Homo sapiens: one gene and its partners. The protein of the gene in region 1 purifies or fractionates together with the protein of each later gene. This does not show direct contact. Each region holds a gene or a part of one and is shown on either strand. Other genes may lie near its edges.

Region 1 (2,410 bases):
AAGAAGCACTGCCTTCCGAATTTTTAGTCGAAACCAGTAGGATAGGTAGAAAAAGATAAACTAAGGCTCATGAAGACACTAAGCCAAGACCACTAAACAGGCAAATTTCCAGTTGGAACCCCAAGAACCCACTAATTTGCTTCCTTTACCTTGTTGCTATTGCATATATGGTTTCCCTAAGCCTACCTAATTGGTCAGCCCACTTCCTCTTTCTTTCTGGGGAGTCTCTGTACTGTAACTGCAGGGCAAGCTGAGAGACATACCACTGCCCAGAAAAGTGTGTCTATGGTCAAGTGCAACTCACCATCTACCCTCAAGAATTCAACTCCCTAATAAAACCCACACCACAGCTGCCTTGGCCCTCACATGGGGAGGAACAGGTTGGATACTTTAAGGGGGCACACCTGTACCACGGTATCAAGCTCTGTTAAATGGCTCCTTTTATTTTAAGGCAGCACCAAGCGGTCCCAAACCAGCAGCAAGAATTGCACACACGATAATGGCAAATTTAATGTGATTTATTCATATAATAACTCATGCTGCACTTAACACAATACAAACTTATGTTTTTCAATAGTGTAGAAGATGTGAATTCATAAAAGCTGTAAGTTAATGAGTACTGAATAAAAATCACCTGCAAAAGGTTCTTTCAGAAACACACCCAAAACTACAATAAATTAGGGCAAGGGGTTTGTAAATGGCAGCTTCAGTCCTACTCCAAACCTTCTCACCCATATAAATCATAGTCCCTGACTTTTATAGAGGAAAAACCAAAAGCAGTTAACCCCTGGCCTTTGCTCCTCTCCTTGTCCACGTCCCAACTCTTGTTTCCTAGCATGTGCTGAATACACTACTAGACCTTGAGCTTTTGTTCCTCATTGGCAGTGGGAGCCCTCTTGCCTGGGCCGTCACATTACTCAGAGCCAAGTACCTGAGGGTTGGCTCCCAGCCACCTCATCTGGAACCAACTTGTCGGTTTGTTCTCTCCCACCCAAACTCTTCCCCCATCAGAGGATAAGGACTATCACCTAGAATCCAGAATCAAACAAGGGCATCCTTTGGTGATTAGCACCATACATGACAGTGATGTCAGGCAGGGCATGGAGTAATAGCCGGGAAACTCTGATCCCAAAGAAAACCCTTGAGCGTGGGCTCCCCACAACAGACTGTGTTTTATCAGACACTCAGAGGAAAGTGGCATCTGTCCCATCAGGTGAGTTAGTGGACAGGGACACCAACGGGAGCTTTCAGTAACATGTGGAAAGGCAAGACCCAAGAGCAGTGAGGGCTCTTGGCCATTATGGCCAAACGATTGGTGATGTGAAGGCAACAACTGACAGTCCTCTCTGCTTGAAGTTCTCATGTGCAGAAGAGAGAAACTGTCCTGAAGTACCAGGGGACCACTGAGTGCAGTGGGGCTGATGGCAGGTTCCACCACAACGGGCTATGCCTAAGGCCCCAAGGGACACCCTGGGTTCTACTTTAATCCCAGATCCCAGGCCAGAATTCAAGAGATTCCTCTGAAGAGCTATAACCTGCAGGATGGACTTGGGAAAGGAAAAGGGGCTGAGCCTCTATTTGGGAGTTTATACCCAAAGCGCTTCACACAGTAAGGTATGGACAGCTTGGGAACCTGACAGGCGGCAAAAGATTGGGCAGAGAGGGAAGAGTCAGTTTCCCTCTGTAGCTAGGGTGAGGCTGCTCCAGAGTCACTTGGTTACCTCCCAGCACAAACCCCAACATCTTAAGTGATTAAAGATTAATGTAGGTTGGGTGTATACCCAAAACAATTAAGAGCAGGGACTCGAACAGATATTTGTACATCCTTGTTGACAGCAACATTATTGCAATGGCCAAAAGGTAGAAATGACCCAAGTGGTCACTGGTGGATGAATGGATAAGCGGAACGTGGTACATACATTTCAGTCCAAAAAAAAAAATTAATGAAGCAGGGCTGTGCAGCCATTACAGCTGTTAATCAAGAACTGTCAATGACATAAAAAACCAAGCTAACATTGTGTTAGATCAAAAAAACAAGATATAGATTATATGTGGTAGTCTGCATGTATGTAAAGCTAAATATGTCCATATCTGCATATATGTCTTTAGGCAGGTAAAAGAATGAAAGGAAATATACAAATGTCAGCAGTGGGTATGTCTCAAATGCTGGGCTTCTTTTCATCTCCAGTTTTCACATGTTCCAGATTTTATGCAATGAGCATATATTACTCTGATAATGGGGTGGAGAGACACAGTAAGCATAAAACCAAACCCCAAACAATGCAAAGGAAAATGAATATTTATTCAATGTCCAGATTGGGGAGGGGTCTGTGTGTTTAACAGGAAAAGATACAGAAAAAAACCTATCACACAGGAAAAGATAAATATGTTTGATTATTTTAAAAGGTGA
Region 2 (3,500 bases), on another chromosome or scaffold:
GCTCTGTCGCCCAGGCTGGAGTGCAGTGGTGTGATCTTGGCTCACTGCAGCCTCCGCTTCCCAGGTTCAAGTGATTCTCCTGCTTCAGCCTCCCAAGTAGCTGGGATTACAGGCATCTGCCACCATGCTTGGCTAATTCTTGTATTTTTAGTAGAGATGGGGTTTCACCATGTTGGCCAGGCTGGTCTCGAACCTGACCTCAAGTGATCCGCCCACCTCAGCCTCCCAAAGTGCTGGGATTACAGGTATGAGTCACCGCACCTGGCCCATGAGTCTAAATCTTAAAAGAGCAATGTAGCTTCCTGTTTGTGCCCTTTGTAGCCCTGATCTCAATATGGAGTCAGGCTACAGCAATGGAGAGACTATTTGTTGAGGGCAAGGCCCTGAGGCTAACTTGTTTTGCTCCCTGTTTTATCTCCCTATTGTCTAGATCAGAGACTGGCCAATAGTATTTGTAGAATGAATTAATGAGTGAATAAGTACATGTGGAGTATTAGGGATGCCATTTGACTTTTTACTCATCATGGCTTGCTCAAGTCATCCATTTCCTACTTGATACTACTCAAGACAGATGGAATGAAAATGGCTTGTTTTGTTGATGAGCAATTTTGGTAGTGGTGATATTGTTATTGACTCTTTCTGAAAGTTAAGTTTTAAATGGAAAATTAAACCAAAGTTATATTGGGGAAGAAAAAGAATTTTTTTTCTGTTTTTATTGTAAAAGCTGCTTTTAAAAAGTCTGTGATACTGGCTGGGCACAGTGGTTCATGCCTATAATCCCAGCACTTTGGGCGGAAGGCAGGAGGATAGCTTGAACCCAGGAGTTAAGGACCAATCTAGGCCATATAGGGAGACTCTGTCTCTACAAAAAATTTAAAAAGTTAGCTGGTCATGATGGTATGCACCTGTTGTCCCAGGTATGTGTGGGAGGTGGAAGGATTGCTTGAGCCCAGGGCTGCAGTGAGCCACGATCATGCCACTGCACTTCAGCCTGGGCAACAGAGCGAGACCCTGACTCAAAAAAAGAAAAGTCTATAATGCCCATTATGCCTATCTTCTGTAGTGTTATACTATGGGAAAATGTGGATCTTCTTTCAGTATCTTGGTTATGTCTTAAGTTGATGGTGGTAATTTTTAACACTAAATTTGCCATAGATTATATATTATATGTGCATATTTTTACCTTTTCACACTTTTAACCTTGTATATATTAGGAATGCAATTAAGTTTTTATTTTAAAATGATTACATTGTTTAATTTTATAGGTCCATTCAAAAGCTTGGTGAATTAAATATTGGAATGGATGGCCTTGGTAATGAGGTATCAGCACTCAACCAGCAATGTAATGGGAGCAAAGGCAATGGATCTAATGGTTCTTCTGTGACTAGTTTTACTACACCACCCCAAGACTCTAGTCAGAGATTAACACATGATGCTTCAAATATTCATACAAGCACTCCTCGTAATCCTGGATCAACAAATCACATACCTTTTCTGGAGGAATCACCTTGTGGAAGCCAAATGTAAGTGCTTGACTTTGTAAAACTTGGAAATATTAACTTACTACTAATGGTTAGAAGGTTGAACTTGTCTTTGGAGCCTTATAAATAAAAGTTTTTAGAGCTTACTGCCTACCAATTTTTTTTCCTAATCTGCCTTCATTTGTCTATATTCTCTTCTACCAACTTCTAAGTCTCTTTATAGTTTCCATTTTCCTTCTATTTTTCTTTTTGCTTCCTGACTACCACCAAGGCAATTATATTTTTTATAAGCCATCCTACTCAAAGAACCTACAGTTTTAGGATCTCTAAATCTTGATTTTCTTTTTTCTTCAGTTGGCATCTTTGAACAAATAATCTTAAAATTCAGACTTTCAGGGCATAGAAAGATGTTTTACAATCTGGTGGAATGATTACAGCTGCAGTGTTGGCTGCTTTGGCAATTACAGCAGTGGAAGACTGCATATTTACATTTTCACTATTCAGGGAAAATTTTTATCTTGCTATCATTAGTATACAAGTGTTAATTTATGCAATGGGAATAGTTAAGGAGCATTTTCTATATTCTTAGCATAAAACACTTTTCAGGGTGGTTCATTAAAAAATGTATAAGATGAGATTCCCAGCTTTTTGGCTGAGATTAAGTACAAAAATGTATAACTTGCTTTTGGCACTTGGATGCTTATAGGAATTCACTTTATAAATAATTAGTGTCAAAAACCTAGTTTTATTTCAGAGCATAAATTCAATTTTTGATTCTTTTCTGAATTTTTATTTTTTTACTATTTGCTTTTTTATTACAGCTTTCATAATAGTTGTTTTGAGTACTTTCAAAACAAGAATTCAGATTTTAAAATTTAATTTTTGTTTTTGTCCATGTAATATACATACATGGTTTCAAAAGACAAATAGTACTTCAAGGCTTAAAATAAAACCCATCTTTGTCCATGGTTTTATTTCTTATTGGCTGCCATTTTCAACCCATTTGGCTGTTTCTCTTGATATATATACATACAATTTTTTTTTAAGATGGGATCTCACTATGTTGCCTAGGCTGGTCTCAAATTCCTGGGCTTAAGTGATCCTCCTACCTCAGCCTCCCAAAGTCCTGGGATTACAGGAGTGAACCACCACACCCAGCCTTTTGCTATATATTTCCACATTTCTGAAAAACATACTTCTATTACTGTTTTGTTTTGTTTTTTTGAGATGGAGTTTTGCTCTTGTTGCCCGGGCTGGAATGCAGTGGTGTAATCTCAGCTCACTGCAACCTCTGCCTCCCAGGTTCAAACAATTCTCCTGCCTCAGCCTCCTGAGTAGCTGGGATTACTGGCATGTGCCACCATGTCCAGCTAATGTTTTGTATTTTTGGTAGAGACAGGGTTTCACCATGTTGGCCAGGCTGGTCTCGAACTCCTGACCTCATGATTCGCTCACCTCGGCCTCCCAAAGTGCTGGAGTTACAGGCATGAGCCACCGCACCCGGCCTCTATTACTGTTTTTGCTATCTGTTGATTCTCTACCATACTCCTCATACATAGCACCCTCACTTTGTCTATCCCTTATTTTCAGTATATATCAATTTTTGTTTAAATCAGTATCAGTGTGATTTTGTTTAAATCAGTATCACATTACTATGACCTTGTAAATGTTATTTACAACTGGGTCATGTAGTGCCATATGATTATATTTCTTTTTCATATAGCTTCTTGTTTTTCCTGGAGACAGTAATTGCCTCAAGTTGGTGTTCATGTGTCTGTACATGATGAGTTTTCTTAATATTTATCACTAAACTATCTGTAAGTGCTTTGACAGAATTATAAAATCATAAAACTTCTCTCATTATTGTAAAAAGTGTCAGAAATTTCTCTATTCCATTTTTTCCCCTTGGGAGATGTCCCTCCAGGATCACTCCTGCTTCACTTTATATTTACTGCTTTTTGATCACTTTATGTAGGTCTAGATAGAATCCTGGGACTTTCCTCACTGTTCTGCTGGGAT
Region 3 (3,500 bases), on another chromosome or scaffold:
GACATCTTTGGGAGGCCATTATTCTGCCTATCCATGAAGCCAGGACCCCCCAAAGTTCAAAGATCCCAGATGTCTCTCTAGAGTCTGGACTGTTAAAACAACTCTCCCCAGGGAAGCCGGCACAGGGAGGTGCCTTGCAGATGCCACCCTCCAGGCCCCGCCTCCCTGCCACAGAGAGGTGCCTTGCAGATGCCACCCTCCAGGCCCCGCCTCCCTGCCACAGAGAGGTGCCTTGCAGATGCCACCCTCCAGGCCCTGCCTCCCTGCCACAGAGGCACCAGAGGGACAGTGCTTCTGTGACCATCACATCCAGGCCACTGCCTTACTAAAAGCCTGCGAGGACAAGTCCTCCCCGCCACGGAGCCTGGGAAATGGTCAGCAGACTCGCCCTCCCACCAACCTCTGTCTGGGTTCCCATCTCAGTGTAAACTCCAGGAGATATCCGTCCGACGCTTTGTTGGGTGCCGGGCACATCATGAGTGCTCAGTAAATGTTGGCTGGATAAAAAAATAAACGAGGCCTAGCAACTGGCTGGACCGATGTTTTTCCTTCTAGTTGTGTCCTGTCTTGTCTATAAGGCACTGGCACAGCATGGTCCTATCTCAGCCACATGACAAGCTGGGTCAGATTACATCTTTCAGTACCAAGAAAAAAAGGAGACAAAGTAAGTGACTAGCTAGAGGTGAGAGAAAGGAGGGTGGGCAGGATTCTGAACACTCACTTTCTGATCTAGGAATGAAGCCAAGAATAACATCAGGGTTAGAATTTGGAAGAAAAGAGCCAAGAATACCAAGAGCAAAGTGTGGAATACAAGCAGCAGGAACAGAAGTCCCGAAGAGCAAACTGGAATTCACAAGAGGCACAGGGGCTCCGGCTATGGCAAGAGCCACACAGCATGAATCTTCCAGAGACTGCAGTGACTGTGGGCTTCCTCTCCACATGCTGACCCACATCCTCTCAGTCCAAATCCCAACATTAGCCAGAGCCCAGGCATCATTCTGAGCCTTGGCAACAAGCCTTGGTTTCATGTGCACTAAAACAGTTTTTTCCAACATGTAGACGCCGACCTTCCTCCCTCCAAAACTGATCAGCAAATGCTCAGTGCTATATTGTTAAAGCGGGCCTGCCACTCCCATTAGAGTGACACAAATAGATGCCTCAAGGCAGTGTGAGGACAGTGGTTACATGCACAAATTCTATTGCCAGACCACCTGCCCCAGCTCTGCCACTAGTGACCTTGGGCAGGAGATATCATCTCCCCATGCCTCAGTTTCCTCTTCTGTAAGATGAAGGCTAATCATAGGACCTACCTCAGAAGGTTTTACTGTGAAGACTCAAGGAGTTCTTATAAATTAAGTGACAAACATATGCCTGAAAACATGGCTTATCCTATATAAATGTTTGCCAGTGTCGTTTGAAATAGGATGAGAGTAAAATTTTGAAAAGATGTTTCCAAAATGAATTAAGAAGGATGAGCCAAGCAATGGCCTTGTTACAAGGCAGGGATGTTTTTATGGAAATTAACAGACAAAAGGAGGCACTGTTTTACCTAAGCACATACTTGTTTTGTGTGGTCCACCAACAGCTCTCCAATCTTGGGCGTGCGTCTGGCACGTGAGCTGAAATAGAGCTAGACGGAGCCTTCCAAGTACATGTGCAAAGAGAACCCTCCACTGTTAAAGCCACTTTCACAGAGCCCTCCCTGAGGAGTGAGGAGGCTCTGCTCTGCCTTTTATCAGAGATTCTGTTTTTCTGTCTGGAAAAAGGGGCTGACAGAAGTTGCTTGGTGCCACGGGGGAGGTGTGGAAGCTCCACAGACTGTAAAGTTCTGTGCAGAGGGAAGGTCTCTCTGTAAGGACGATTGCTCCTCTCCAGCAGCTCAGAAGAAAACTGTAGAATTCTGCCCACCTAAAGTCCTTCAGAGTTCCTCCCTCTCTCAGGCAAATTCCTCCCACAGGTGAGAGTGGGTGGGGCGCTTCTCTCAGTCAAAGATCAAGGGCTCCCACATGCGCTCTCATTGTGCAGCATTGTGCACAGTCAAATAAACAATGGTGGGCCGATGTCAAAGCCACGATCCGGCATCTGAGACATGGGCTCAAGGCTCAGCTCAGTTGCTTATCTGACTGTGTGACCTCAGACAACACTCTTTCCGCTCTTCAGTTTCCTCAACTCAAACCGGAAGAATCTACCATTGCCTGGCGTACCTTCACTGCCCTGTTAATGTGGTCCAAATGGGAAGGGCATTATCGGCACGTCCAGCACTATGGGAATCCCAGTTGTTGTTATAACCAGGTTATAATCTGTAAAATCCACCCTTTCCTTGGCTTCCTTTCCATTTTCCCTTTAATTTTGAACAAATATGGATTGAGCTGTGCCTGTGTTTTGTAACAGATTGACTGAAAAGTCCATGGCTCTTCTTCTGGCCAAGGTCATGGCCAAGTCCCCTGCAGGAACTAGAGGGCCCTATTCCTGATGATCTCTTCTCCAGAGCCCCTGTGTGCTGCCCCCACCAGACCAGCTCCTCTCCAGACCCAGGAGTGGTCTCTGCAGCTCCTCTGTGGACTGAGGCCCCATGACACTTAGCTGAGGTCACTTTCAGGATATTTCCAGAATCCAACCCCATCTCAGCACCTCCCCTGCTGCCATCATGGTCCAGGCCACCACTGCCTCTCACCTGGAAGCCTCTTAATTGGTCTCCATGCTCCCAGCCTTGCCCCCTCGGTCTGTTCTCAGTATAGCAGCCACAGGCACCTTTGCAAGTGACAATTAGCATATTGCTAATCTGCTCAAGCCCTTCCCATGGATCTCTGTCTCACAGAGTAAATGCTGCACTCCTTGCAAAAGCCTATGAAGCCCTTCTCCTGGGATTCACCTTGACTGCACATCGGAATCACCCAGGAGCTCTAAACAATACTGAAGCTGAGTGCTGCCCCAGAAACACTTATCTAATTGGTCTGGGGTGTGGCCTTGGCATCAGGATTGTTTTTTAAGGCTCCCGTGATGTGTAGAATGGGCAGCAAGGTTGAGAACCACGGCCCTAATGATCTGCTTCCTGTTGCTCCTCTGGCCTCATCTCCAACTACTGCCCCCTTACACACCCCATTCCAGCCACAGGGGCCTCCTTCCTCTTCCTCAAACATGACGTGCCATGCGTGCTTCTGCCTCAGGGCCTTTGCACTTGCCACTTCCTCTGCCTGAAAGGTACTCCCCCCATCCTCCAACAGTACCCTCATGGCTTGCTTCCTCTTCTCCTCCAGGTCTTTGCTCAAATGTTACCTCTTACTGAGGTCTTCTCTGACCACGCAGGAAAAATTGCAGCTCCCCACTCTTGTCCCAGGTGTCTCTCTCTCTCTCCGACTTTATATTTCTCCATAGCACTCACCACCACCTAACATACTGCATATTTGACTTCTTTGTTTTGTTTACTCTCTGCCTCCACCCAACTAGAATGCCAGCTCTGTGAAGCAGGGGTTTCTGTATGTTTTGTTCACTGCTTTGTC
Region 4 (3,500 bases), on another chromosome or scaffold:
TGTTCACTGAGTGGAAGAAAGAAAATGTTATTCAGGGAGAATTAAAAAGGTAAAATAAGCAACATTACATGCCTTAAAAAACAGTTTTAAAACCAGACAACACACAAGTTTCTTTCTTAATTCCATAGTACATAGTCAACTGAGGCATTGCATCCTTACTTGAATTATTGGAGATATTTCAGAGGTGTAACAAATAATTGCCATATTGAGGATTTATTATATTCTGGGTAATAAGCCAAAAGCATAACACATGTAAAACCTCATTTCATCATAGCTCTATAAGGTTGGAATTATCCCAATTATGTAAATGAAGAAACTGAGTCTCAGAGCATTTAGGGAGTTTGCCTGATGAAACACAGCTGCATTTTAAGTTCAAGTTGTCTGGCTGCAAAGTCCATGCCTAAACTATACGGAGAACTTGAAATCGGGCTTGGCTCAGAGCCTCGGGTTTAACAGAAGTCCGCAGAGTTGGGCACCAGGTAGCTAAACTAAATGAGGAAGTGGCTGGGTATGAGACTAGGGTCTGTTCCAGTGTGGGACCCCAGAGGCTCTAAGTAGTGTGGATCTATTAACTCAGAGCTCTCTGTTCAGGAGAAACAATTTCATTGATGTGACCGTCAACATTTTTTTAAAGGGACAAAGGTGAAATGAATTATAAAGTTACAATATTGAGTTTTTCTTATAATGACAATGACATTTGTGCACCTTAAAATTATGTGTATTGTAAGAGTTTTGAGATCTCATTTCCTATATTTAATATTAAAGGAATTTCAGCTCACTTTTATATAACTACTCTGTGTTCAGCAGAGACCGTTTTGAGTATAAACAACCACAGCACAATCTGTTGTGTTTAGTTTCTAGATGAGTCAGTATTTCCTAGTGCAAAATTTAAGATCTTAGCATTATCAGTAGCCATTTTATTCAAGATTTTTTGAGGGAGAAGTAGAACACTGACTGTATTTCTGCATACATACCTGATGGAATATTGGGTCATAAAATCAGATTTCATGGGTTGAAAACCTTTTCACTTGTGGTCACTTTTCAACTATCCAGATTATGACTTATGAAATTAGTCTCATTTTTGTATCCTTGATATATTCTGTTCTTTGACTTACATACATATAAACTTGACATGGTTTACCTATTCTAATGGTCTTTCTAAAACAGAAAAACTACAAAACTTTGTATGAGTCTACAAGGTAATGAAGAATTCATCTTCAAAAAGAATTGGGTCAAAGTAGTCAGAAAAAAGTACAAGACAAAAAGTACTGCAGGGGAATTTGCCTCATGGGATGTTAAAATGTGCAATAAAACTGTGATAATCAAAGCAGCGTAGAAAAAAATATGTAAGGATTAGCATATGAATCAAAGAAATAGACTTGCTCAAACTCAGGTATAAATGTGATACCATAAGTCAATGAAACAAGGAACACATTTTTTTTAAGGGTGAGAGACAAATGGTTAAATTATGTTAAAACAGTTAAATTTTCTTCTCATGCCAAAAAAATTCTATCTAATCTAAGAGCAGAGCCACTTGTAAAAAATAACAGAAATGAAATGGAAATTAATATTTGTAATAGCACTGTTTATACAACCTTACACACTGCTGATAGTAGTTTAAACTACTTCACCTTTCTAGGAAGCAATTTCGCTATTTATTTGTTTTTTTAGAGATGGGGTCTTTCTCTGTTGTCCAGGCTGGAGTAGAGTGGTGCCATCATAGCTCACTGCAGCTTTGAACTCCTGGGCTTGAGAGATCCTCACACCTCAGCCTCCTGAGCAGCTGGCACTACAGGCATGAGCCACTGTGCATGGCTCAATTTCACTATTTATATCAGAGGCTTTAAGTCAGAACCTCACTTTTAGAAATCTAACCTGATGAAATAATCAGAGATGGGCACAAAGATGATATAAGGATGTTCATCACAGTGTAGTGTGTAATGTAGTGAAGAAATAATAAGAATGACTAATCATGCAGCGGAATATTATGAAATATTTTTGATGAATATTTGTGATATGAGAAAATGCTAAAAATACTAAAGGATGAAAAAAACAGGATGCAGGGCATTTTTAATAGTCTGAGTTTTTAAAAAATAATACAGTCAAATATTTCCTTAAAATACTGAAGGGGCCAGGCGTGGTAGCTCACACCTGTAATCCTAGCACTTTGGGAGTCCGAGGCAGGTGGATCACCTGAGGTCAGGAGCTCGAGACCAGGCTGGCCAACATGGTGAAACCTTGTCTCTACTAAAAATACAAAAATTAGCCAGGCGTAGTAGTGCACACCTGTGATCCCAGCTACTCAGGAGGCTGAGGCAGGAGAATCACTTAAATCCAGGAGGCAGAGGTTGTAGTGAACAAAGATCGTGCCATTGCATTCCAGCCTCGGTGACAGAGCAAAACTCCGTCTCAAAAAAAAAAAAAAAAAAAAAAAAAAACCATTTTATAGTGATTATCTCTAGGGCATATGATTTAGAGCATTTCTTTTTTTGTGCTCTATGTATTTTCAAGCTTTCTATAATGAGCATATTCTATTTCTAAAAGCAATTAATAAATAAATATTTATTTATTTATTTATTTTTATTTTTATTTTTTGAAACAGAGTCTTGCTCTGTTGCCCAGGCTGGAGTGCAGTGGCACGATCTTGGCTCACTGCAAGCTCCACCTCCTGGGTTCACGCCATTCTCCTGCCTCAGCCTCCCGAGTAGCTGGGACTACAGGCGCCTGCCACCACGCCCGGCTAATTTTTTTTTTTTGTATTTTTAGTAGAGACGGGGTTTCCCCGTGTTAGCCAGGATGGTCTCAATCTCCTGACCCCGTGATCCATCCGCCTCGGCCTCCCAAAGTGCTGGGATTACAGGCGTGAGCCACCGCACCTGGCCAGCAATTAATAAATATTTTTAAATGAATAAAATAGAAAGGTCGTGCTTCAGATCACCAACCAAGAGAATATGGAAAGAGCTAAAAAGAATAACAGAATAGGGAGGTGGAATAGACATATCACTGCTTCTTCCTTCAGAAGAGAGAAATTAGGAATTGAGCAGAGTAGATAAGCAGAGGTGACTTGTGTAAGCAACAGGACTCTCCAGTCTACCTTCTGGTTCTTATATAGATAGCACACAGTTTTCTAAATTCTTTTATTCCAAAAAGGAGGCACTCAGATCTACTCAGTCTGCCCAGGCAGTCTTAGATCCTGAACTTACAGTTTGGGAACCCAGTGTGTCCATAACTCAAATGTTTATACTGAACTGACATGTACCCACTAAAAGAACTGATCATTTGTCATCATTCAAGACTCATTCAAATCTCCTCTCATTTGATTTTTTTCTTTTTTTTTTTTTTTTTTGAGACATAGTCTCACTGTTGCCCAGGCTGGAGTGCAGTGGTGCAATCTCGGCTCATTGTAACCTCTGCCTCCCGAGTCCAAGTGATTCTCCTGCCTCAGCCTCCCAAGTAGCTAGGATTACAGGTGCATGCCACCACATCTGGCTAATTTTTGT
Region 5 (4,176 bases), on another chromosome or scaffold:
CCAAGATATTGGGATTACAGGTGTGAGCCACCACACCTGGCAATAGCAAGTACTTCTATCTAGTATCTACTATATGAGCCAGGTACTATTCAAAGTACATTGCATTCATTTATTTATTTAATCCTTACAACCACCTGGTGAAGTACATGCTATAATATTTTACAGATAAGGAAAACTGAGTAACAGAATGGTTAAGTAACTTGCCCAAAGGCACCCAATAGGGTCAAGATTCAAACCCAAGTATTCTGGCCCCATGGTCTGGTCTAGAGGTTGGCAAACTGTGACCAAAGGACCAAATCCAGCCTGCTACTTGTTTTTGTAAATGAAGTTTTACTGGAACACAGGCACATTCATTCACATATGGTACATGGCTGCTTTCACACTACAACAGCAGAATTGAGGAGTTGTGAAACAGACTATATGTCCTACAAAGTCAAAAATATTTACTCTCTGGCCCTTTATAGACAAGGTTTGCTGACTCCCACATCAGACTAAACCTTCTAAGGCAATAAGGTGACACACTTAAAACATTCTGGGCCAGGTGCAATGGTTCACACCTGTAATCCCAGCACTTTGGGAGGCCGAGGCGAGTGGATCACCTGAGGTCAGGAGTTCGAGACCAGCCTGGCCAACATGGCGAAACTCCATCTCTACTTAAAATACAAAACTTAGCCGGGCATGATGGCGCCTGCCTGTAATCCCAGCTACTAGGGGGACTGAGGCAGGAGGATCACTTGAACCTGGGAGGCGGAGGTTGCAGTGAGCCAAGATGGTGCACTGCACTCCAGCCTGGGCAACAGAACAAGACTCCGTCTCAAAAAAAAAAAAAATTCTGAACAGAGCCTGTTCAAATAACTCAATAAATGTAAGTTATCTTTATTGTCATCACTGCTATTGGTTGTAGCAGAGGTGGAAGCAACTGACCTGATCCATGGAAGCCCCAGTTCAGCATCCCCACTCACCATGCCAGTAGTTGCAGATGGAGAATTCCTGGCCCCAGGGGCTATAGCAGATCCGATAGAGGTTAGACCGCATGGAGGTGGGGAACAGCCACTTCAAGTAGTCCGTGTCTGGCAAGCGAATGGCAATGCTAAGTGACCATAAACCTCTGTTCCCCCAAAACTCAGGGCATTCTATGGAGTCTAGTGCCCACTCACCTCCATACTGTCCCATCTGTGGAGAGGAGAGGGAGATGAAAGAATCCACGTTGTGATCATCCATGACAGAAAGCAGAGCCCGGCACACAAGGCCCCCTGTAAGCAGAACACCACATTGGGCAGGCACTTAAGGACAGCAAAGCCAGCAGCACCCCCCACCCCCACCACACACACACACACACACACACACACACACACAGAGACACACACAGACACACACTGTACACAAAGGAGACTGAGGCTTACAGAAGGCAGGCACACCCTGTGCCAAAAGGTCACACATCATATAAGTGACTGAGCCCGAATTAGATGCTGGGCCTCCTGCCTCTAGTTCTAGGATGTTTTTACCTGCCCCATTAGCCCTTATGTCCAAGAACCATGGGTAACAGGAAGCAAAAGGGCAGCAGTGTAGGGAGCCTCCCTCCCATTCAAGACAGAGATGAGACCCAGGTGCTGAGGGAAGTCAGAAAGGAAGGGCTCAGGTACCAGGGTTGTGCCTGGAGCAATGTGGTTCAGAAAAAGGGACGCTAGGAAGTGTCCCTCAGATAAGGATCAAGCCTCAGATAGGGCTTAGGAGTTAGGGGCAGGGGAGTCGCCTACCCTGCGAGTAGCAGATGAGATGCACCCCTTGAGGGGCCTTTGCCATGATGGGGACCACAGCCTCTCGGAACCCTTGCACCTGTTCCCACAGGGGTCGCAAGCTCTCTCTCCCATCGAAGAGATCGAGCACTGTCACCACAGTCCCGGGGTGTGTCTGTGGGAAGGGGGCAATGCAGCCACCGGGGATAGGCTAAGAAGCTCCCACACGCCACCCCCTGGCCCGCGTCCACAGGTCTATTGTACCCTGCTAGAACCAGGGATCCCGTCCCCCAACTCTCCCCCACGCCAGCACCAGCTCCCTGAGGAACTGGGCAGGCCCAGAGGGGTGGCTTTCAGTTCCCCGCTCTCCCTCCCCTGCCACAGTAGACGCCTCTAACGCCCTGCACCCAGGTGTCCCCTGCCAGACCTCATTGATGTATTCCAGCAGGTGGCGGAAGCTGTACGAGCTGTCGAAGAGCCCATGCACCACGATGACCGGCTTGTAGGACGCGCGGTGGGGCGCGGGGGCTGCAAGCAGCAGCAGCGGCAGGAAAGGCAACAGAAGCAGGACCCACGCCGCGGGGAGCCGCTGCCCGCAGAGCCCCAGCATGCTCCCGCCTGAGAAAGGGGTGATAAGGGCATGTGAGGGAGATGGCAACACCCTCCTCCCTCGGAACAGACGCCCGGCAATCAAGCCACCTCCTCTCGCTCCCACACCAGGTCCGTGTCACAAAATAGCCTACTTTTAACTTACTCCAGCCCTCTCCCTACAAACACACCCCCCCACCACGTTGACGCACCAACGCGCACCCGAAGTCCCGCCTCCAACTCAGCGTTCGGGGGACTTGTTCTCTAGGTCCAGGATCTTCCTAATGCATCGCCTCAGCCATGAACAACGCGGAGTTCTTTAATACCCGTGAGCAGCAGCCCAGGCCCCTTGAAGAGTGCAGACTCCCACCTGGCCTGGGTCCGTAGGCCTCGCTCCACCCGCTGTTTACTTATCCCAAGTCTGGAACCCACGGTGGCGGGGGGAAGGGTGAGGAAAGAGAGCGCAGGGGAATGACGGATGGGAGGGGGAAGGGCGGGCTGCTTGGGGTCGCGCAAATCCGTCACGTCCGGGGCTTTCTCTGGCAACCGCGCGAGCGTTCCCCGCAACACAGACCCAGGACAGGAGGGGCAATGGAATATTCCATTGCGCCCTAGGTGCTGGGGAGGAAACAGGCGGAGCGATCCATTTAGGCCAGTGGGGAGAGGAAAAAGCAGCAAACATATTCTGGGAATGGAAAGAAGGCCTCTCCAGGCTTCGTTGCCCCCAGCGACCCAAAAGTCCGATTTCCCCGCCTTGATTCTCCCCACTTCCCAATACAGGCGTCTGGCTCCGCAGCAGAACACGAAGTTTGCATTCCCCAAGGGGCGGCCAGGGGGCGGACCAGGGAAAGGTAGTCCTCTGCATTTTGCCGTGTGCTGGGTGAGTGGCAGGGTGGCCTGGAGGGCTGATGCCAGCCCGGGCGTGCCCCTCAACACCCACCCCACCCCACCCTCCAGTCCGCCCCAGGTCAGCGACTTACAACTCTTCATTCTGAAGTGCGTGTAGTGCCCTTGTCTCCAGAGACGCAGAGAGTCCTCGAGGCCCCTTGAGCTAAGTGCAGCCTGGCCCAGTTTCTCCTGCCCTACTCTACTCCCCTCCCTATAAGCGACCCACCCTCAAGGGGCGGAGGGCGCGTAGGGATGCGCTGACTCATGCCCGCGTAATTTCGACCAGTCTTTCAACCTGAACGACCCCCAGAATCTGGCTGTCTGAGTTATCTGTGGGTGGCTCCCTACCGAAACCCCCAGGCGCCCCACCTCTCCGCCTGTGACCCCTAACCGACACCCTAGTGCCTCAGGGCTTTTACTTGCTAGGGCTTTTACTTAGCATTTAAAGACGTTTCTCTAGAGATAAGGATTTCTCAGCATGTCTGAGCCCCTCTCTCTGTTTACAAGGTCATTGCTTGGTCTAAATTTGTCTCAATCAAAACATTTTTGCGCTCAGAATGGTGTAGAGTGACGATGAGGTGGCGGTAAGGGGTTGAGCGCTCACGCGAACGCCTAAGTGACCAGAACGACTGGTGTGAAGCCGTGATCTGACTCTGTGGAGCCTGGGACTGGTTTCAGCGAGAGCCTCTGTACTGCTCTGTAGTCTCTGCTAGGACATGGACGAAAAGGGACGCAGCCGGGAGAGCGACTGCCCCAGGTGGGGGCTGGGGGGACGTAAGGGAAGAATAATAATTATCTGGCTGTGTTTTTGTTTAAAAAAAAAAAAAAACTGGTGTAAATCTCCATAGACTTCCTATCCTCGCTCCCTTCACCCACCCACGCGCTCCCAAGATGCAATAAGCAAATAAAAAGACTAATAACGCTGTACTGCAGGTCGACTCAGGAGCTGGAGATGCGTCTTGGT
Region 6 (3,980 bases), on another chromosome or scaffold:
TCTTTTTTTTTTAAATTTAAATGGGAATATAACACAGTTTTCCCTTCCATATTCCTCTCTTGAGTTTATGCACATCTCTATAAATCATTAGTTTTCTATTTTATTACATAAAATTCTTTTAGAAAATGCAAATAGTGAACTTTGTGAATGGATTTTTCCATACTCATCTACAATTCCTCCATTTTAAATGACTACTTTTATTTTTTAATTTAAAAAATCTACTTCAGTATCATGAGTAGGTCTTACATCAGTGATGGGTTCTTTTTGTAGTGAGACATACAAATCTGATGTTAATGTTTGCTCTTAGAAGTCATACTCCATGGTCTTCAAAGACCAAAAAATGAGGTTTTGCTTTTGTAATCAGGAAAAAAAAAAATTAATGAACCTTAAAAAAAAAAAAAAAGGTTTTGAAGGGAAAAAAAGTGGTTTCACACCTCTTGTTATTCCTTAGAGTCACTTCAAGGCCTGTTTGAATGTGGCAGGTTAGAAAGAGAGAGAATGTCTTTCATTTGAAGAGTGTTGGACTTGTGTGAAAGGAGATGTGCGTGTTGGAATCTGCTTTTCCAAGCCGCCAGGGTCCTGACGGCAGCAGGACGAAGCCTGTTGTGGCGTCTTCTGGGAAAGCCTGACCGTGTGTTCGGACGGCACTGGCTCCTTTCCGAAGTTCTCAGTAACTGAGCCCAGAGTAACTGCACGCCTTTGTGCAGCTCTGGAGCTCCACCAACTCTCGGCCTGCCAGTTCTCAAGCGAGCTAATCTTGTCATTAATCGATAGAAGCTAACTTCCGAAGTTAGGACCTAGTTACTTTGCTCTCAACATTTAAAATAATGCAGTTGCTCTAGTGAATGGGGCGTTAGGGGCCTGTCTCTGCACCTGTCTGTCCATCTGCATGCAGTATTCTCACCCATGTTGAATGCCTGCTGCTTGTTTACCCTTTGGAAACCCTGGGGTGACCAAGGTTTGGAAAGCCACCTGAGACCACTTCATAGCAAGGGAAGGCTTTAAGCAGTTACTAGAAAGAGATGGGGATTTGGCCCCTGGCTCCTCCAGCCTGAATGAGCTATTTAATCCACTGTCCATGTTCCTCATCAGTCAAATCCAAAGTCAAAGGATTTGAACCTGCATCTGGAAACGTAACCACTCACAGCACCTGGCCCGCCAAGGTTGGGAGGATTGTACACTACTTTCATTTAAAGGGGAAAGTTTGATAATACGGAATTAATTAATATGAATGAGATGCATTAATAAGAACCTGAGCATGCTGAGAGTTGCAATTGTTGGTTTTCTGGTTTGATTGATTTCCTTTTTTCTTAGACACATCAAAGTCAAGAAAGATGGTTTTACCTTTACTGACCCAGCTGTACATATGTATCTAGACTGTTTTTAAATGTCTTTCTTCATGAATGCTTCATGGGGCTCCAGGAAGCCTGTATCACCTGTGTAAGTTGGTATTTGGGCACTTTATATTTTTCTAAAAACGTGTTTTGGATCCTGTACTCTAATAAATCATAAGTTTCTTTTTAAAAATTTTCCAAAACTTTTCTCCATTTTAAAAAGCCCTGTTATAAACGTTGAACTTTCACAATGTTAAAATGTTAAATATTTGGATATAGCAACTTCTTTTCTCTTCAAATGAATGCCAAGATTTTTTTGTACAATGATTAATAAATGGAACTTATCCAGAGAAACCACGCAAATGGCCTGCCCAATTTCGTTTGAGGACAGAAAGCCCAGCCATGACTTGAGTAGAATGTCTCTCACCTCTCTTCGGATCTAAATATGAAAAGTATGTTCTGCTGAATTTTTCTGAGCATTGGTGAGCGGACAGCCTACCTGTAAACCATGACCTCCTTGCCAAACGTTAATTTTATCAGCTCACTAGTAACCTTTGAGAATTATCTGGTTGTCATGCAAAGATTGCACTTTCTGAATTATGTTAAAACACATGTTGTAAAATGAGAACTGCTCATGCTTTGAAAGAAAACCAGGTTCTTCGTGCGTTCTGTTGCCGTTGATTTGAATGGCTGTGCTGTATACGATGTGTCCAGAATGTCTTCAGAGCACTGTTTCCGTGTGATGTTACTACCTACTATGTGGGAGGAAAAAAGGTTATAGGTTAAACAAAGTCAATTGACTCTATGGTGGTGTTTCTCAATACCTGTGACGCACAGTACTGTGCGTCGTGACTTTCTAAGAGAAGTGTGCAGCGGGTGTGTCATCTTGATATATGAAACCCTGGAATTTCCCTCCCCTACACGCACGCACCGTCCCCGGGGGTCCGGTGTTTGCAGACATGCTTTGAAAAGCTGTCTCAGTGAGACATCAGTTATGTCCAAAATGAGTTTACCTTAGAATCAGACCGGTTTTGCCAGGCGTCATGTTTGCAAACATTATCCACCTAATCAGATTTTGAAAGGCCGGCTTTCATGTCGCCTGCCTGAGACTCATAACAGATCCCCATTATAAGCGCGTTTACACAGCAAAATGATTTTATTGAGAAAACCAGCATTAAGTACTGTTGCCGGCTCAGTTTTCCATTGCATACTATCTACTTAAAGTCCCGTTCTCATTTGTAAGTGTTCCGATCTTTCCCCACGGAGAAAACTGAGCAGAGCTGCCGTGTCGCAGGCTTTCTGCTGCTGATGTCGCATCTCTTTGCTTTCCCCTCCTTAGTCCATACTCCAAGTAAGTGAACTCAGACTACCAGCAACTTTTTAACTGAAAAGTATCTGTCCATGATGATCAAGATGCAGCTCTTCGTGTTTTTATTTTGTCTTTTTTTTTTTTTTTTTTTTTTGGAGGGAAGGAGAGACATCAACTGGACAAAATGCAAAATTTGGATGTGGGACAATTGCTTTTTGGAGACGTGAATAGCTGTACTGTACGTATTATTTTGTGTGGCATGCTAACTTTGAGCCGGGCACTGGCCTAATAAAGTCTTTGTAATCCTCCCAGCAATCCTATAAAGCAGACGCAGATAGTAAAGATTTTAGGCTTTGCAGGCCACGTACAGACTGTCACATGTTCTCTGTTTTTAAAAGTGTCAACAACATTCTTAGCTCAAAAACAGGCTGCAGGTGGGATGGTGCCCACAGGCCATAGTTGGCTGACCCCGGCTAGGGTGTAGGCACTTAGCATTCCACTGTATAAAGGGGAAACCCAGGTCATACTGCGTGTGCGTGGGTGGGAAGCCGGATGTGGAATACAGGTGGTCCCTGAGTCTCCAGGAACCACTGAGCTCCAGCTGTTCACACCCACACTCTGCGGCGCAAGCAACTACCTCGCCACGGTTTAGCCTTGGTCTAGCAGCGACTTTAACCTTGAATGTTGCATTTCTGAAAAATTTAGAATCTTGAAAGTAAAGGACGTCCCTCCGGTGAATAAAATTAGGCGCAATTATAGAATACATGTATTATGGCCACGTAGCAATGACTGTATTAGGGCTCTGCTAGTTCTGTAATAAATAGACCCGAAAAGCAACAATGGCTCAAACACCATAGAACGTTTTTGCTTCCATAATATTGGGCAGGGGAATGGGCTGGCAGGGCAGCCCTTATGCAGGCAGGCATCAGAGCAACCTGAGCCGTCCATCTCCATCCCGCCTGAAGTAGCGGGGAGCATGGAGGGCTGAGACCATCTGGGAGCTTCCATGAGCCAGGTGTGGAAGTGGCACCCCTTATGTCCACTCATTTTGCACGGAGGTGGGAAACGTCCAGTTGTGTTCTAGGAAAGGAGACAGAACACAGTGTGGGTGGAAGCTCTGGTCCACTGCACGGGCCACTCCAGTGTGCTCCTCCACCGCAGGAGACAGCCACGGACAGCTAAGCCAGGCTGTCCGTGGGGACGGACACATTTCTGCAGTCTCCGGCTCAGTCGCCCCTGCCTAAGTAGCACATAGAGGCAGTGGAGTTCCCTTCAGATGGCACTGTCTGTGTACACTCACGGTCTCCACCGCAGATGGCTGCAGCAGCGGGGAGCAG
Region 7 (3,500 bases), on another chromosome or scaffold:
AAAAACACATGTATATATAGAAACCTAGATTCCTATGTATGTCTGCATATTATAAACACTTTTAAGATAAGTATACGGTTTCGAAAGACAACTACACAATCATAATTACTTTTAAAGAAAATGTGCATGCCCACAGGTCTATAAAGTTACTTCCTATTACCTGTGAAATGGTCTCTAAAGATATACACTATACATATAGCAAAACAGAATAATTGCTTTAAATCTAACTGAGGGCTGGACAAGGCAGCTCACACCTGTAATCTCGGCATTTTGAGAGGCCGAGGCAGGAGGATCATTTAAGGTCAGGAGTTTGAGACCAGCCTCGCCAACATGGTGAAACCCTGTCTCTACTAAAAATAAAAAATTAGCTGGGTGTGGTGGCAGGTACCTGTAATCTCAGCTACTCGGGAGGCTGAGGCAGGAGAATCACTTGAACCCGGGAGGCAGAGGTTGCAGTGAGCTGAGAACGTGCCACTGCTTTCCAACCTGGGCAACAGAGTGAGACTCTGCCTCAAAAAAAAAAAAAAAAAGAAAGAAAGAAAAAATAGTAATAATAGGGCTGGGCACAGTGGCTCACACCTGTAATCCCAGCACGTTGGGAGGCCAAGGCAGGTGGATCACCTGAGGTCGGGAGTTCAAGACCAGCCTGACCAACATGGAGAAACCCCGTCTCTACTAAAAATACAAAACTGGCCAGGCATGGTGGCCCATGCCTGTAATCCCAGCTACTTGGGAGGCTGAGGCAGGAGACTCACTTGAACCCAAGAGGCAGAGGATTTGTGATGAGCCGAGATTGAGCCGTTGCACTCCAGCCTGGGCAACAAGAGCGAAACTCCGTCTCAAAAAAAAAAAAAAAAAAAAAAAACCACGCACACACAAAAATTATCCAGGCATGGTGGCAGGCACCTGTAATCCCAGCTACTCAGTAGGCTGAGGCAGGAGAATCACTTGAATCTGGGAGGTGGAGGTTTCAGTGAGCCGAGATTGCGCCACTGCACGCCAGCCTGGGTGACAGAGCAAGACTCTGTCTCAAAAAAACCATAATCATAATTATAAAATAAATCTGACACATTTTTCCATAACTTTGAGAAAAATTTTCCAGAGCTTCACAAAATATATCAATGTCAAATACTTACAGTTTGTAATATGAATGCAGAAAATAGATGGATTAATCTGGTCAACAAGTTCAAATACTCTTTGAGGTGGGTTTGCTGTAAAATTCAATGAATAGATGACTGCTTTTTGACTACAAAACTGGCTGTCGCCCCTGAAAATTAAAAAAATAATAATACAAAGTTACAAGACATAAGCACACAATCTTAGCAAAATTATTTTAAAACTGTCAGATGCTTGTACTGTACTATGTTAACAGTTACGTGGAGGATATTTATGAAAGCATGACGTCCCAGCTACTTGGGAGGCTGAGGCGGGAGAATGGCATGAACCCAGGAGGCAGAGCTGGCAGTGAGCCAAGATCGCGCCACTGCACTCTAGCCTGGGCAACAGAGCAAGACTCTGTCTCACAAAAAAAAAAAGAAAGAAAGAAAGAAAAAAGAAAGCATATTAGAATTGAATCCGGCTGGGCACGGTGGCTCACACCTGTAATCCCAGCACTTTGGGAGGCCGAGGTAGGCGGATCACAAGGTCAGGAGATGGGGACCAGCCTGGCCAAGATGGTAAAACCCCATCTCCACTAAAAATACAAAAATTAGCTGGGCGTGGTGGTGGGTGCCTGTAATCCCAGCTACTAGGGAGGCTGAGGCACGAACATCGCTTGAACCCAAGAGGCAGAGGTTGCAGTGACCCGAGATCGCGCCACTGCACTCAAGCCTGGTGACAGAGTGAGACTCCATCTCAAAAAAAAAAAAAAAATTGAATCCTTTTTTTTGAGATGTAGCCTCACTCTCCCAGGCTGGAGTGCAGTGGCACGATCTCGGGTCACTGCAACCTCTGCCTCTTGGGTTCAGGTGATTCTCCTGCCTCAGCCTCCCGAGTAGCTGGGACTACAGGTGTGCACTGCCATGCCTGGCTAATTTTTGTATTTTTATTAGAGACAGGGTTTCACCATGTTGGCCAGGCTGGTCTCAAACTCCTTACCTCAGATGATCCACCTGCCTCAGCCTCCCAAAGTGCTGGGCATGAGTCACCACAGCTGGCTGAATCCATTTTTATTTAGTTTATTCTGTGTTGAAATATTTTGCATTTGGGCCAGTCACAGTAGCATGCACCTGTATTACCAACTACTCAGGAGGTTAAGATGCAAGGCTCACTTGAGGTTAGGAGTTCGAGGCCAGTCTGGCAACATAGTGAGATCCTCATCTCTTTTTAAAAAAGAAAAAGCTTGGCATTTAAAACTTTTTCCTCTAACAGAAAAAAACAAAATTGAGACAAGTAGAATAACCTTTAAGGAAATCTTGTCAAGAACGTAGATCAGGGTATAATTTTTATGTCAGTGAACTTTACAAACTCTGATAGCATCAATTAGATAAAATTTTGCAGACCTTCAGATTGTTTAAAAGTACCCAGAATAGATCCAAATTCCTTGTCTTTAGAATAAAGCTGTCTTCAAAGGACTGTGAGAGTAAGAAAATGTGGAGTCATCTGGAAGGTTTAATGCTTAGAAGTTATGGTACAGGGCCAGGCACAGTGGCTCATGCCTCTAATCCCAGCACTTTGGGAGGCCGAGGCGGGTGGATCACCTGAGATCAGTCGTCTGGAAGGTTTAGTGCTTACAAGTTATGGTACAGGACCAGGCACAGTGGATCATGCCTGTAATCCCAGCACTTTGGGAGGCCGAGGTGAGCGGATCACCTCAGGTCAGGCATTCAAGACCAGCCTGGCCAACATGGCGAAACCCTGTCTCTACTAAAAATACAAAAATAAATTAGCCAGGCGTGGTGGCATGTGCCTGTAGTTCCAGCTGCTGGGGAGACTGAGGCAGGAGTATTGCTTGAACCTGGGAGGTTGCAGTGAGCCAAGATCGTGCCACTGCACTCCAGCCTGGGCGACAGAGTGAGACTCTCTCTCCCAAAAAAAAAAAAAAAAGAAGTTATGAGTTAAGTCTTCAACCAATCCCAGATTTGACAAATCCCAATCAATTTGCTATAGATACAGATACAGGCCAAGCACCATGGCTCATGCCTGTAATCCCAGCATTTTGGGAGGCTGAGGAGGATCACTTGAGGCCAGGAGTTCAAGACCAGCCTGGGCAACACAGACCCCTATCTCTACAAAAAACAAAGAAAAAATTAGTCCGGCATGCTGGCAGATGCCTGTAGTACTAACTACTTGGGAGGCTGAGGTAGGAGGACTGCTTGAGCCCAGGAGCAAGGTTACAGTGAGCTATGATCGTGTCACTGCACTCCAGCCTGGGTGACAGAGCAAGACCTATCTCAAAAAAACATAGAGGCTGGGCACAGTGGCTCACGCCTACAATGCCAGTACTTTGGGAGGCCATGGCAGGAGGATCACTTGAAGCCAGGATTTCAAGACCAGCCTGG

What was found.
Region 2: the proteins of IDS (region 1) and WDR47 purify together in Homo sapiens (affinity purification with mass spectrometry; 2 studies listed by BioGRID and IntAct, with this or other methods). This does not show direct contact.
Region 3: the proteins of IDS (region 1) and GALNT18 purify together in Homo sapiens (affinity purification with mass spectrometry; 3 studies listed by BioGRID and IntAct, with this or other methods). This does not show direct contact.
Region 4: the proteins of IDS (region 1) and COCH purify together in Homo sapiens (affinity purification with mass spectrometry; 3 studies listed by BioGRID and IntAct, with this or other methods). This does not show direct contact.
Region 5: the proteins of IDS (region 1) and PPT2 purify together in Homo sapiens (affinity purification with mass spectrometry; 3 studies listed by BioGRID and IntAct, with this or other methods). This does not show direct contact.
Region 6: the proteins of IDS (region 1) and FBXO21 purify together in Homo sapiens (affinity purification with mass spectrometry; 3 studies listed by BioGRID and IntAct, with this or other methods). This does not show direct contact.
Region 7: the proteins of IDS (region 1) and TCTN1 purify together in Homo sapiens (affinity purification with mass spectrometry; 3 studies listed by BioGRID and IntAct, with this or other methods). This does not show direct contact.

What each region holds. Positions count from the first base shown.
Region 1 is NC_000023.11:149,476,488-149,478,897, forward strand, and holds the end of IDS (iduronate 2-sulfatase isoform a preproprotein), read right to left. Parts: 3' UTR 501-2,410; downstream 1-500. UniProt on the Homo sapiens protein: Lysosomal enzyme involved in the degradation pathway of dermatan sulfate and heparan sulfate.
Region 2 is NC_000001.11:108,993,603-108,997,102, reverse strand, and holds part of WDR47 (WD repeat-containing protein 47), read left to right. Parts: intron 1-1,265; coding exon 1,266-1,523; intron 1,524-3,500.
Region 3 is NC_000011.10:11,444,006-11,447,505, forward strand, and holds part of GALNT18 (polypeptide N-acetylgalactosaminyltransferase 18), read right to left. Parts: intron 1-3,500. UniProt on the Homo sapiens protein: Catalyzes the initial reaction in O-linked oligosaccharide biosynthesis, the transfer of an N-acetyl-D-galactosamine (GalNAc) residue from UDP-GalNAc to a serine or threonine residue on the protein receptor.
Region 4 is NC_000014.9:30,881,059-30,884,558, reverse strand, and holds part of COCH (cochlin isoform b precursor), read right to left. Parts: intron 50-3,500; exon of another isoform or gene 7-49; coding exon 1-6. UniProt on the Homo sapiens protein: Plays a role in the control of cell shape and motility in the trabecular meshwork.
Region 5 is NC_000006.12:32,152,765-32,156,940, reverse strand, and holds the start of PPT2 (lysosomal thioesterase PPT2 isoform a precursor), read right to left. Parts: upstream 2,801-4,176; 5' UTR 2,537-2,800; intron 2,355-2,536; coding exon of another isoform or gene 2,347-2,354; coding exon 2,164-2,346; intron 1,912-2,163; coding exon 1,758-1,911; intron 1,254-1,757; coding exon 1,158-1,253; intron 1,071-1,157; coding exon 963-1,070; intron 1-962. UniProt on the Homo sapiens protein: Catalyzes the cleavage of thioester bonds from S-palmitoyl-CoA or S-palmitoyl-N-acetylcysteamine (unbranched structures) but does not have activity against palmitoylcysteine or palmitoylated proteins, branched structures or bulky head groups.
Region 6 is NC_000012.12:117,141,491-117,145,470, reverse strand, and holds the end of FBXO21 (F-box only protein 21), read left to right. Parts: 3' UTR 1-3,480; downstream 3,481-3,980. UniProt on the Homo sapiens protein: Substrate-recognition component of the SCF (SKP1-CUL1-F-box protein)-type E3 ubiquitin ligase complex.
Region 7 is NC_000012.12:110,624,129-110,627,628, reverse strand, and holds part of TCTN1 (tectonic-1 isoform 1 precursor), read right to left. Parts: intron 1,268-3,500; coding exon 1,137-1,267; intron 1-1,136. UniProt on the Homo sapiens protein: Component of the tectonic-like complex, a complex localized at the transition zone of primary cilia and acting as a barrier that prevents diffusion of transmembrane proteins between the cilia and plasma membranes.